Linked DNA regions of Homo sapiens: all the other regions are reported to be linked to region 1. Evidence: microRNA targets listed by miRTarBase, many of them from high-throughput screens and not tested one by one. Region 1 holds a microRNA gene; each other region holds the end of a gene's coding sequence.
Evidence for each region. The annotated mature microRNA hsa-miR-6766-5p reads CGGGUGGGAGCAGAUCUUAUUGAG and lies in region 1 at 2,717-2,740, shown strand. An mRNA with a match to its seed (bases 2 to 7 or 8) in the 3' UTR can be bound and repressed. Matches are read on the target gene's strand: a 7mer-m8 pairs with bases 2 to 8, a 7mer-A1 pairs with bases 2 to 7 and ends in A, and an 8mer does both.

Region 2: the mRNA of CHST12 is a reported target of hsa-miR-6766-5p. Seed matches in the 3' UTR shown: 7mer-m8 at 591-597 and 7mer-A1 at 3,329-3,335.
Region 3: miRTarBase lists DNLZ as a target of hsa-miR-6766-5p. Seed matches in the 3' UTR shown: 8mer at 1,253-1,260, 7mer-A1 at 2,205-2,211 and 7mer-m8 at 2,650-2,656.

The regions. Positions count from the first base shown.
Region 1 is chr15:89,325,522-89,329,521 of GRCh38, reverse strand. It overlaps MIR6766 (microRNA 6766), which reads left to right and starts at 2,712; the gene lies at 2,712-2,783. POLG (DNA polymerase gamma, catalytic subunit) reads left to right here. Exons shown (of 23, transcript NM_002693.3): 4 at 412-579; 5 at 691-837; 6 at 987-1,066; 7 at 2,173-2,355; 8 at 2,459-2,610; 9 at 2,784-2,910; 10 at 3,836-4,000.
Region 2 is chr7:2,433,519-2,437,518 of GRCh38, forward strand. CHST12 (carbohydrate sulfotransferase 12) reads left to right here. Exons shown (of 2, transcript NM_018641.5): 2 at 1-4,000. The coding sequence ends at 366. Among named protein-coding and RNA genes, the nearest start is that of CHST12, 32 kb to the left of the region's middle. RefSeq lists an enhancer at 1-401.
Region 3 is chr9:136,358,282-136,362,281 of GRCh38, reverse strand. DNLZ (DNL-type zinc finger) reads left to right here. Exons shown (of 3, transcript NM_001080849.3): 3 at 102-2,799. The coding sequence ends at 270. It overlaps GPSM1 (G protein signaling modulator 1), which reads right to left. Exons shown (of 14, transcript NM_001145638.3): 14 at 2,681-4,000. Among named protein-coding and RNA genes, the nearest start is that of DNLZ, 3.5 kb to the left of the region's middle.

The sequences.
Region 1 (4,000 bases):
GAGGGTGCTGAGGCTCAGACAGCCTTGTTGACATGCTCAGGGCCACAGAGCTTTTGAGTGGCAGGGTTGGGGCCAGACCAGATAGCCCTGAAGGCTTTATTTTGGCCACTCTGTATCTACGTTGCTCAGAGCTATTGTTGGAAGCTGAGAAGGACTTGCACATTGGGATTGAGCCAGGCCTGCATCTTAAAGGGTGGCTAGGATTTGGGAAGGCAGGCCCCTTACAGGTGATGGGGCAAGCATGAACAAGCATGAGGATTCTGTATTTGGTGTTGAAGGCTGTGTGCTGGGAGGGGAGGCTGTTTGAGGAGCTGAGGTGGGGCTGGAGGTCCACACCACCAAGCAGTGGTGGGCTGGCCCCACAGTTGCAGCCTCCCTCCTTCCCTTCCCTTTTCTCCTCCTCCTCCTCAGGGTTCCCGCATGCGTTTCCTGGACACCATGAGCATGCACATGGCCATCTCAGGGCTAAGCAGCTTCCAGCGCAGTCTGTGGATAGCAGCCAAGCAGGGCAAACACAAGGTCCAGCCCCCCACAAAGCAAGGCCAGAAGTCCCAGAGGAAAGCCAGAAGAGGCCCAGCGGTGAGAGCACACTGCCGGTGGGCAGGAGCATAGTGCTTGGGACCCCCTCTCACCAGCCCGTCTGGCCCGAGGCCAGGCTGATCTGCCATGTCCCTTGCTCTGGTTCCCCAGATCTCATCCTGGGACTGGCTGGACATCAGCAGTGTCAACAGTCTGGCAGAGGTGCACAGACTTTATGTAGGGGGGCCTCCCTTAGAGAAGGAGCCTCGAGAACTGTTTGTGAAGGGCACCATGAAGGACATTCGTGAGAACTTCCAGGTATGGTGCTGGAGGGGGCTCTGGGGACATGGGCTGTGGCACACCCCTAGCTGCACTTGGGGAGATGCAGCTGCCAGGCCTGACCCTGAGAGCTGGTGGTGGTAATGGGATGGCTGCCCACCTTGCGCCTTCCTGTCACCTTGTGCCAGGACCTGATGCAGTACTGTGCCCAGGACGTGTGGGCCACCCATGAGGTTTTCCAGCAGCAGCTACCGCTCTTCTTGGAGAGGTGAGGGGGAGCCCATGTGGGAATCTCTGGGGGTCAGTGTGTTCCTGGTACCCGGGCCCACTGTAATCAGGTGGCGCTGGTTCTATCTCAGGTTGGGGACCTTAGCTTTTCTAGGCTGAAAGAATGGAGCCCTTCTGTTCAGTGGTGTCCATCTGGGCCCTGGACTCTGGATTTGACAGAGGCCCTGAAGGGGAGGGCCATGGAGTTGTGCTTGTGTGTCATGTGCACGGTCCTGGTTTACTGTGCACCTTCTCTAACTAGATCCTTAGCCAAGGGCTTCACATACAGCGTGGTTATGTTTATTAATGAGTCTGTCTTATGAAGTGACCCTTGTATGCTGAAAATTCAGGTATATTTGTACCAAAGATATGGAAAGAAAAAAGAAGGGAGGAAAATTTGGGTGTAACTTTTGACTCCCTCAGAGCTTAACTACTAATAGCTTGCTGTTGGCTAGAAGCTTTACTGATAACATAATACATATTTTTTATGTTATACGTATTATATACTGTATTCTTAAAGTAAGCTAGATAAAAGAAAATGTATTAAGAAAATCATGAGGAGAAAATATGTTTACTATTCATTAGGTGGAAGTGGATCATCATAAAGATATCTATCCTTCACGTTGAGTAGGCTGAGGGCGGGGGTTGGGCTTGCTGTCTCGGGTGGCTAAGGCTGAAGAAAATAAATGTGTAAGTGAACTTGCACGATCCAGACATGTGTTGTTTAAATGTCAGCTGTATTTTACCACCCAAGTTGTGAGGTTCAGGCATGATGTTTTTCATGTATGGGATTATTAGCACAGTGCCTGGCACAGAGTCATTACTCCACGTGTGGCAGCCATTTTCACTTTTGCCATCTATATTTCCCACATTACCCCTGAGGATGGGATGATATTGTTCCCATTTTATAGATGAAAGAACTGAGGCTCCGAGAGATGGGGTTGCTTACCCAGGGATGAGTAACAGTAGAGCTGGGATTTAATGCCGTCTGACTTTTGAGCTGTGCCATGTCAGTGGCTGGGTTGAGGCTTGCTAAACCAGCTCAGGGATTGGGCCAGTCTTGCCTCCTGTGGTCATTTATGGCAGCTCCTGGTGTTTGCCTCCAAGGTGTCCCCACCCAGTGACTCTGGCCGGCATGCTGGAGATGGGTGTCTCCTACCTGCCTGTCAACCAGAACTGGGAGCGTTACCTGGCAGAGGCACAGGGCACTTATGAGGAGCTCCAGCGGGAGATGAAGAAGTCGTTGATGGATCTGGCCAATGATGCCTGCCAGCTGCTCTCAGGAGAGAGGTAGCCAGGCCTTGGGTGGGCAGGATCTAGGCAGGGGACTGGCAGGTGGGCGGCCTAGCCTTCGGCTTAGCCTTAGCCCTGCCCTAGTGGACTGGCTCTGTAGGTACAAAGAAGACCCCTGGCTCTGGGACCTGGAGTGGGACCTGCAAGAATTTAAGCAGAAGAAAGCTAAGAAGGTGAAGAAGGAACCAGCCACAGCCAGCAAGTTGCCCATCGAGGGGGCTGGGGCCCCTGGTGATCCCATGGATCAGGAAGGTGGGGAGCATGGGTGGGAGGTAGGGTAGGGTAGGGGTTGTCTCTGGGAAGGTCCTGTGATTGAGGGGGTCCTTCGAAAGGATTGCTCCAGCCTTCTGGAGATGAGCGGGTGGGAGCAGATCTTATTGAGAGTTCCTTCTCCTGCTCCTGATTGTCTTCCCCCACCCTCACAGACCTCGGCCCCTGCAGTGAGGAGGAGGAGTTTCAACAAGATGTCATGGCCCGCGCCTGCTTGCAGAAGCTGAAGGGGACCACAGAGCTCCTGCCCAAGCGGCCCCAGCACCTTCCTGGACACCCTGGGTGAGCCCTGCCCACCCCCAGCAGTGTATCTAGAGTCTACCCTTGCTCCATTCTCAGGACAGCCCTGGTCTGGGTTCTGGCACAGAGGCATCATGCACATGTATACTTATTGACCTGCTGCCATTCAGTCACACTGTCTTCCAGTCCTATTCTCATTTGCTCACTCTGGACCGGCTCACTGGACTCATTCAGCACAGTGTTGTGAGCACCTGCTGTGCAATGGCCCGTGGCAGCCACCGGGTGTACACACTGGAGCATAGCTCCTCCTTTCCAGTAGTTCTTTTTCCTAGGAGGAGCCAGGCACGTAGACCAGCCAGTGCAGCTAGTGTCCATAGGTAGAGTTCTGACTCTGCCTCGGGAAATAAATCAAGAAGGCTTCCTTGAGAAGGTGCCCCTTCCTTTGAGCCTCATAGGGTGGCAGAGATGAGAAAAAGGGCAGCCAGGGTGAGCAGCAGGGTGCCAGCTTTGCACCTGCAAGACCCTGAGAGCAAGTGTCCTGAGTGCCTTGCTAGTCTCACCCTGGGCTCAACTCTGGTGAACAGCCTGCAAGAGAGCACCCAGAAGGACTGGTGTTTCTCTAGAGGGGTGGGGAGGGCAGATCTGCTCCCTCCTCTGGTCAGTTACCCTGGATGAAATGGAGCTTGGGAAGGAGCCCTGCCCTGGGTCAGGGTATGCTTTTGTGTCCTGGCTTCTGACTAGTCCAGTGGGACTGACTTAGTGTCTTTGCTTTTGAAATATTCTTCTAGAGGATTCCATGGGGGTCCTGGCTAAAGCATCCCAGAGGAGGGGATGGCGGCTGTAGGCTGGGGTCACCAGAAAGCCCCAGGGCTTTGGAGGGTGGGTGGGGACATTGTGAGAGAGAGAACCTTCCCCCCAACAACTGCCCTTACCATCGTGACACTGCTGTCTTCCTGCTGGGACGTAGATGGTACCGGAAGCTCTGCCCCCGGCTAGACGACCCTGCATGGACCCCGGGCCCCAGCCTCCTCAGCCTGCAGATGCGGGTCACACCTAAACTCATGGCACTTACCTGGGATGGCTTCCCTCTGCACTACTCAGAGCGTCATGGCTGGGGCTACTTGGTGCCTGG
Region 2 (4,000 bases), not on the chromosome of region 1:
GCTGGCCTCAAGGTGTCCTTCGCCAACTTCATCCAGTACCTGCTGGACCCGCACACGGAGAAGCTGGCGCCCTTCAACGAGCACTGGCGGCAGGTGTACCGCCTCTGCCACCCGTGCCAGATCGACTACGACTTCGTGGGGAAGCTGGAGACTCTGGACGAGGACGCCGCGCAGCTGCTGCAGCTACTCCAGGTGGACCGGCAGCTCCGCTTCCCCCCGAGCTACCGGAACAGGACCGCCAGCAGCTGGGAGGAGGACTGGTTCGCCAAGATCCCCCTGGCCTGGAGGCAGCAGCTGTATAAACTCTACGAGGCCGACTTTGTTCTCTTCGGCTACCCCAAGCCCGAAAACCTCCTCCGAGACTGAAAGCTTTCGCGTTGCTTTTTCTCGCGTGCCTGGAACCTGACGCACGCGCACTCCAGTTTTTTTATGACCTACGATTTTGCAATCTGGGCTTCTTGTTCACTCCACTGCCTCTATCCATTGAGTACTGTATCGATATTGTTTTTTAAGATTAATATATTTCAGGTATTTAATACGAAATGTGGAAGGGAATGCTGGAGTAAAATATCCCCTCTCCCCTCCGCCCGCCCACCCGCCCGCCCGCTCGCCCGCTCGCCCGCTCCTGTGGTTTTTCTGAGCGTGCGGGCGCCGGGAGGGGATGCTGAGGCTGATGGAGCTGCCTCCAGGGCTAGGGCCACTCACCGGAGGAGGGCGGGGCCTGCACTTGAAGTCAGGCCGCACCTGTCTGTTTTTGGAAGGGTAGCCGACAAATCCTTCCAGAGGGAAAGTTCTTTGTTTAAGTGTTGTACTTGAAAAGGTCAATCTTCAGGGCTTCCTGTTTGAAGTCAAGTCAGAGGTAAACCGGTCAGTTACAGAAGCAGGATTTCTAGGATTTCTAACTCCAGCTGTTCCCATACTGTCTAGTTTAAATTATGGCTGTTAAGGCCGGGCGGGTGACTCAGGCAGGTAATCCCAGAACTTTGGGAGGCCCAGACAGAAGGATCGCTTGAGGTCAGGAATTTGAGACCTGGCCAACATGGTGAAACCCTGTCTCTACTAAAAAAAAAAAAAAAAAAAAAAAAAAAAAAAAAAAAATGAGTCGGGTGTGGTGGTGTGCACCTGTAGTCCCAGCTACTCAGGAGTTCTGAGATGGAAAGATTGCTTGAACCCAGGAGGCAGAGGCTGCAGTGAGCTGAGATCGCGACATTGCACTCTAGCCTGGGTGACAGAGTGAGATTCCATCTCAAAATAAATAAATAAATATTAATACATTATGGCTATTAAGGCTGGGCACGGTGGCTCATGCCTGCAATCCTGGCACTTTGGGAGGCTGAGGGGGGAAGATCACTTGAGCCCAGGAGTTCAAGACCAGCTTGGGCAACATAGCAAGGACCTCATCTCTACAAAAAATAAAAAGGACGTGGTGGTGCACATCTGTAAACCCAGCTACTCAGGAGGCTGAGGAGGGAGGATCACTTGAGCCCAGGAGTTCAAGATCAGTTTGGACCACATAGCGAGACCCTGTGTCTACAAAAAATAAGAAAATCAGCCGGACATGATGGTGCACACCTGTAATCCCAGCTACTCGGGAGGCTGAGGCAGGAGGATCGCTGGAGCCCAGGAGTTCAAGGCTGCAGTGACCTATGATCGTGCCACTGCACTCCAGCCTGGGCAGCAAAGTGAGACTCTGTTTCTAAATAGACAGATAGAAGATAGGTAGATAGATAGATTAAATAGAAAGTAAACTATGGCTGTTGAGGTTTACAGTTGGCAGGAGTGGAGTGGTTTGGCGTTTATCTCTAGACCGTGCTGGATGACAGTACCCAGTGTCACCAAGAAGAGGCTCCGTGTGACTGTCTCTGTGGCTTTCTGGTTGGTTTAGCTCCAGTGCCTTCACCCTCAAGGACACGACTGACCTTGAACCCTCAGGTTTGATGGGCCCTGTCTTGATAAAAGTGTCAGAGGAGGCTCTGGAAACATCTGGCTGAAACTCCTTTGCTATTTCTGCTTCTAAGCTGTAGTTGGAGAGATGGTTGCAATCATTTCGTGGTGTCGGGCACCCTGCTTGACCTGTCTTCCTCGTGTGTGGTATTTGTCACCACTGCCCAGTCCCTGGTTGCTGGCCACGCTCAGTTGGGACATACCCTGGTGTCCTCTGTGTGTGGTGTCCCTGTGTTTCCCAGGCTCAGGTGGGCTTGTGTGGGTCTTGGCCCCCAGTGCCTGCTAGCCTCAGGTGTCCCCTGTGTTAGACACCTCCTGCCTTCCTTTCTGAAGCTTCGCTTTCTTTTATTTTTGTTTTGTTTTGTTTTTGGAGACAGGGTCTCGCTCTGTCATCCGGGCTGGAATACACTGGTGCAATCACAGCTCACTGCAGCTTCAACCTCCTGGGCTCAAGTGATCTTCCCATCTCAGACTCCCAAGTAGCTGGGGTTACAGGTGAGCGCCAGCCTGCCCAGCTAGTTTTTTATTTTCAGCAGAGATGAGGTCTCACTGTGTTGCCCAGGCTGCTCTCAAACTCCTGGGCTCAAGTGACCCTCCTGCATCACCCTCCCAAAGTGCTGGGATTACAGGCATGAGCCATCACACCTGGCCCCTCCAAGTTTTTTATTATGATAAAAATGTTTAATTTTAAACGTACCATCTTAACCATTGTTAAGTGCACTGTTGTGTGGCATTAAGCACATTCGTATTGTCGTGCCACCACCACCATCATCTCCAGAGCTTTCTCATCTTCCCAAACTGAAACTCTGTCCCCATTCAGCACTCGCTCCCCATTGGTAGAAGGCAGCAGCTTCCACTCTCTGATTTCTACTACCCGAGCTCCCTCAGAAATGGAGTCACACAGTATTGGTCCTTTTGGGACTGAAGTACTTCACCTCATGCAATGTCCTCTAGGTTCATCGGTGTCGTGGCAGGTGTCAGAACTAACTTCCTTTCTGAGGCGGAATAATGTCCCATTGTGTGGAAGAGGCATGGTTTGTTTATCTGTTCATCAGTTGGTGGACACTGAGTTGCTTCTGCCTTCCTGCGAATGTGAATTGAATGCTGCTGTGAACAGGGTGTCAGTGAATCTGCTGAGGGCTTGTTTTCCGTATTCTGGGCATGGCCCTTTGTGTCTGCCTTTGCTGGAGCACCTCCCCGGGATGCGTTTGTTTATAGGATGTTCAGACGAATGTCAGAACCCACTGGGCGGTTCACTCACTGAGGGGGGCCCGCGTCCCCTCCATTTCTGCATTCCCAGTTCTTGGTATGGTTCCTCTGAGGTTCGGTTTTCCTGAGCACCTGGGGTGTTTGCAGGGATGTGGAGGGGTTCCTGCAGAAGACACCACCCACATCCACGCACCTGCTCAGATTCCCGGGCCATGGTCGGGGCCACCGCCCGTGGGGATGACTCCGGATGGGAGTGGCAGAAAAGGGCCTGCTGGGCCGAGGGGAGGCGTCTCCGGGAAGAGAGGGAGGTGTGAGCGGGGAGAACCCACTTTGATTCTTCGCTGTTTGCCTGATGCGCAGCACCACACTGCGTAGAGACCTTTGGCTCTGGTTTTTTCTTTTTCCACTGAAACACAGCAAATTATACATTTTATGAAAATTGGCATCGTACAACTGGAAAATTTAACCATAAACTTAAAACTCTTTTACCCTGTTGGCCCCCATCCTCCAGCTGTGTCCACACTTTGAGCACAGTCATGAGAATGACTTGGTTGGGTGCGGGGTGGTGTCACAAAGCCCTGTCTCTTGTGTGATGGCTGCGCCTCGAATCAGTGGGAGGGCACCTCGCCCGTTTACAGTTGGGCAATGCTTGGGCTGGGCGGCCTGGCTGCTCCTGGACTCGCCTCCCAGCGTCTGATGCTGTGTATTTTCCATCTGCCCCAGGAATTTGACACAGGTGTGACTTGCAGGTTGTGTGGGTGATGCCTCCCTCCCTCTTTCCTCTTAAAGCATCTCATGCTTCTTCATTCGCTGATACTTACAACCCCCAGTGGATATTTAGTGGAGT
Region 3 (4,000 bases), not on the chromosome of region 1:
GGTGCTTGCAGCTCTGGCCTGGCCATGGGGCGCCCTGAGGGGACTGAAGTGCAGGGCGGCTGGGGGGCCCTGAAGAGCCATGTTGCCTCCCTGCCCCCCAGAAATATCGAAGAGATCCTGACGGCCAGAGGCGAGCAGGTGCACCGTGTGGCGGGCGAGGGGGCCCTGGAACTGGTTCTGGAGGCTGCAGGGGCCCCCACATCCACTGCAGCTCCGGAAGCGGGTGAGGATGAGGGTCCCCCCAGCCCTGGCAAGACGGAGCCGAGCTGACTCCTGCGCTCCCCGGCACTGTGGGACTTCGGCCTTCCAGAAGGAGGTTTTGGCCCTGGGCCTCTCTGGACGTGGCCTGTTTTCTATCAATAAACAGACATTACTTCCAGATGCTGGGGCCTGTGGCCCTCGTGGCCTTTCTTTTTCTGGAGTTAGAACGATTGCTCTGAATCCCTGGTGCTGCTGGGTGGGACATAGGAGCCGCAGGACCTCTCGCCTCACCACAGTTCCTTCTACACAGAGTCACCCAGCTCTTGCCCACAGAGGCCACAGTCGCGTGGAAAGGGGGCTGGATGTGGCGTCAGAGCCCTTCCTGGCTGTCGCTGCGTGACTTTGAGCAGGTCACCACCCCTGTGAGCCTCAGCCTTCCTCTGCAAGGCCCTTGCCGCCCCCCTGGCCAGCTCTGGCGGCCTCCCTTCCGTGAGCCAGTGCAGACCTGAGCCCTGGTCCTCGGCCGCCGGCCGTCGGCGAAACAGTGAGCAAACCAGGCTGCCTGCTGGCCCAGGCAGGACGAGCAGCTATGGCGTGGCCGTGTGTTAGGAGCTCCAGACCCCTCCCGGGGGAGCCACCTGGGCCTCCTTCCCTCGGTGGACAGCGCTCTGGACGTCCCCAGGGCCCTCCGAGGTGTGTGGGGTTTGTCTCCCAGCCTTGTCTGTGCGCAGGATGTTCCCGTGTTTATGAAAGCGAGCAAACACAGCAGCCTGTTTATTTGCAGAAGCGTTCTGGGCAGCGTAACCTTCAGCATTCATCACCCGCCACACTCCGGCAGGGAAGAGAATGGGGCGAGGTGGGAGGTGGAGGCAGGACTGAGCACGACAGGGACCCAGTGCGGCCCCTCCCAGCGGGACACGGCCAGGACTGCCAGCTCACATCCGGCCCGTGGGAGGCCGGGGCGCGGCGGCATCGTTCCCAGTGTGCTTGTGGCGTGGGCTTTGCCTCGATTACCCCCTGTCCTTCTTTCAGCCAACAACCCTCTATTATTCCCACCCAGAGCCTTCTGTGCCATTTGTGGAAACTGTCCTCTTCTCGGCTGAGCCACCGGCACCCAGGCCTGCTCCTCCATGGAGGCACTGGCTGGGGGTCTCTTGGGGGCTTGGAAGTGCAGTGGGGCTGGGCTTGGCTTGGCTGCCTCACTGCCTCCAGAGGGCCTGGACCAGCATGTGGGGAGGTCCAGGGAGCCGTCTGGACCTGGAAGTGCAGAATTAGAGCAAGGAGAGCCGCTTGGGCCAACCCCTCCTCTTACGGATGGGGAGATGGCGGCTGGTAGTTGGGATGTGGACGTTACCATGTCTTTTCTGTCTGATGCCAGCACCTCTGGGCCCAGGCTGGCCCTGGAGGGAAATCCTTCCCAAGGCTGGCACGTTCCTAGAGAAGACCTATGGCTACCCCCCGCGTGCCAGAAGCATCCCGCCAGCTCCTGCCTGAGGCCCCCTGGACCCTGTCTCCCTCCGCCCTTCCCTCCCCGCAGCCCCAATCCCACAGCCAGGTTTCTGCAAGGGGCTTTGCCATCCTAATCTCCTGCCACTCTACACCCCCCCGCCCCAGGACATCCCTGCCTCCCGGGCACGGTTGCTGGCCTGGGCATCCCTCGTCACAGCGTCTCTCCAAGCAGGTTCCTCGGCCGCACCTTCAGAGGCTGTCCCAGCCAGTAGCGTGGGCGGCACTGCTGCGCTTCCCTGGCTGTGCGCGGTCCTGGGCCCTGCACGGTTACTTGGACCCTGTGTGCGTGTACCACCACACGCAAGCTGGCTGGGACCCTGGACCTGGAGTACACGTTGATTCTGGTTCCCAAGGCCCCTTCTGGGGTGGAGGAGGCAACGGAGTCAACCAGCACAGAGGCTGTGGCTGCCAACATGGCCAGGTGGGCTGTGGCGAGGGGCAGCAGGACTGCCCGGCGCACCTGTGTGTCCCCTGACGGGGGCCCCGTGGGGGTGCCACCCACCACAAGCAGCGCCCAGACAAGCCCCAAGACTGCAGATCTGCCGTCGGCTCCTCCACTGTGGCTCAGTGTCCAGACCCTGAGCCCAGCCGGATCAGACTCCAGGAAAGGACCTCCCTCCCCCGGGTGCTGGGTGGGCGGCAGCAGGCTGGGTCCTCAGGGGGTCGTGGGGCTGACCTGGGGGCTGCTGCTTCTGGGGGCTGGTCCCGGCCACGTGAGTGTCAGCTCAGAGCATGCTCTGTTTCCCTAGGGGCTGGGAGCGTGAGGAGGTAGGGGTGCAGGAATCAGTGGTGACAGCAGGCAGCCACTTCACCCCTCTGTGCCCCAGCTCCCCCGTGGTTAAATGCAGTGGGAACTCCATCTCTCTGAGGTCTCAGAGGGCCCAGACAGTGGGTATCTGTGGACACTTTGCACAGTGCAGCCTCTTACCGGGTTAGGCCCCCACCCGGGACTAAGCCCATACGGACCACACTCACTTGGCCGACTTTATTTTTCAGGAAAAACAGAAAAACAAATGTACCTCTTGGGTTGGAAAGGACCCATTGACAACATGGCACAGACGTGAGCAATAAATACGCACATACATTCAAGTATGCGGGGGGGCGCTACGTCCTGGAGACCCTGTGTTCGGGCACCTGTCCCTGCTCTCGGGTGCGGCCCTGCCCCTCCAGAAGCAGGTCACCTCACCAGGCCCAGATCTGCCTCTCCATCCTAGCCTGAGAGTGGGGCCTAGAGGCACCCTCCTAGATGGAACTGCCAGCCCTGGGGGCTGTGGGGCCATGGTAGGGCCCTTGGCAGTCTTGGGAGGTGCCAAGGCTGGGTCTGGACAGGAGGAGGCAACCTCAGGCCCCTGGGGCCCATCTCAGGCTCCAGCAGGTCCTGCCAGTCCTAGGATCCCGAACTTGGTGCCCTGTGAGCCCCCTCCCCATGGAGAGAGCAGTGATGTCATCTCCCCCAGCTGGTGGGAGGAGGGGGGTTCTCATATGGGGGGTCTGCAGGGTTGAGCTGAGTGAAGCCTCCCCAGCTTCCACTGACCACCCCCCCACTTGGGTGAGGGTCACAGAGCCTGGTGCTACCTCCCACCCTGACTGGGCACTGCTCTTGCTGCCAGTAAGCATCCCTAGGACCAGGCCCTGCCCTTTTTCCTGGCTTGGGGTTTTGGAATGTCGAAGTTCATGCCCAGCCATTCCCTCTGCTTTAGAGATAGGCCCGGCTCCTGTCGAGGCCCCTGCAGGGCCCTGGGACTCGGCGGGGGGCACCTCAGGGCTGCCACTGCAGCCTGGTCTGCCATGCGTGGTCTGGGGGGCCTTCTGTGGTTGCTGACCTCTGGCCGGGGAGTGGGGAGACAGGCTTGGAGGGAGCCCTGCCCCAGGACGAAGCTGGAGGGGTGGAGCATGCCTGTCACACGGCCATCCCAAGACCAGCTCTGGGGGGACAGAACATGGCCCTGTCCTTGGTGGCCCCAAGAGGCGGCTCAGAGACACCTTTGGGGAGGGTGGGGGAGACAGCAGGGTTTCACATTTGGCAGGGCAGGGCAGAACGGGAAGGGCTTGGGGGAGAGGATGCGGGAGTCTGACAGCACCAGGTCGGGGCCGACATGCCGAAGGCCCCGTCCGGCCTGCGGCAGGGGCAGAAGGGAGGAAGCTGAGGGCCATGGGGGCCAGCCCGGGATGGAAGCACGCCCTCCCACCACGGGCAGCTTGGCCTGAGCCTGTCGCCCTGGGTCGGGGAGGCCGTGGGGCTGCATGCCCAGTGCCTGTCCTCGGCAATGGCCTCGGGAGGACGTGGCTG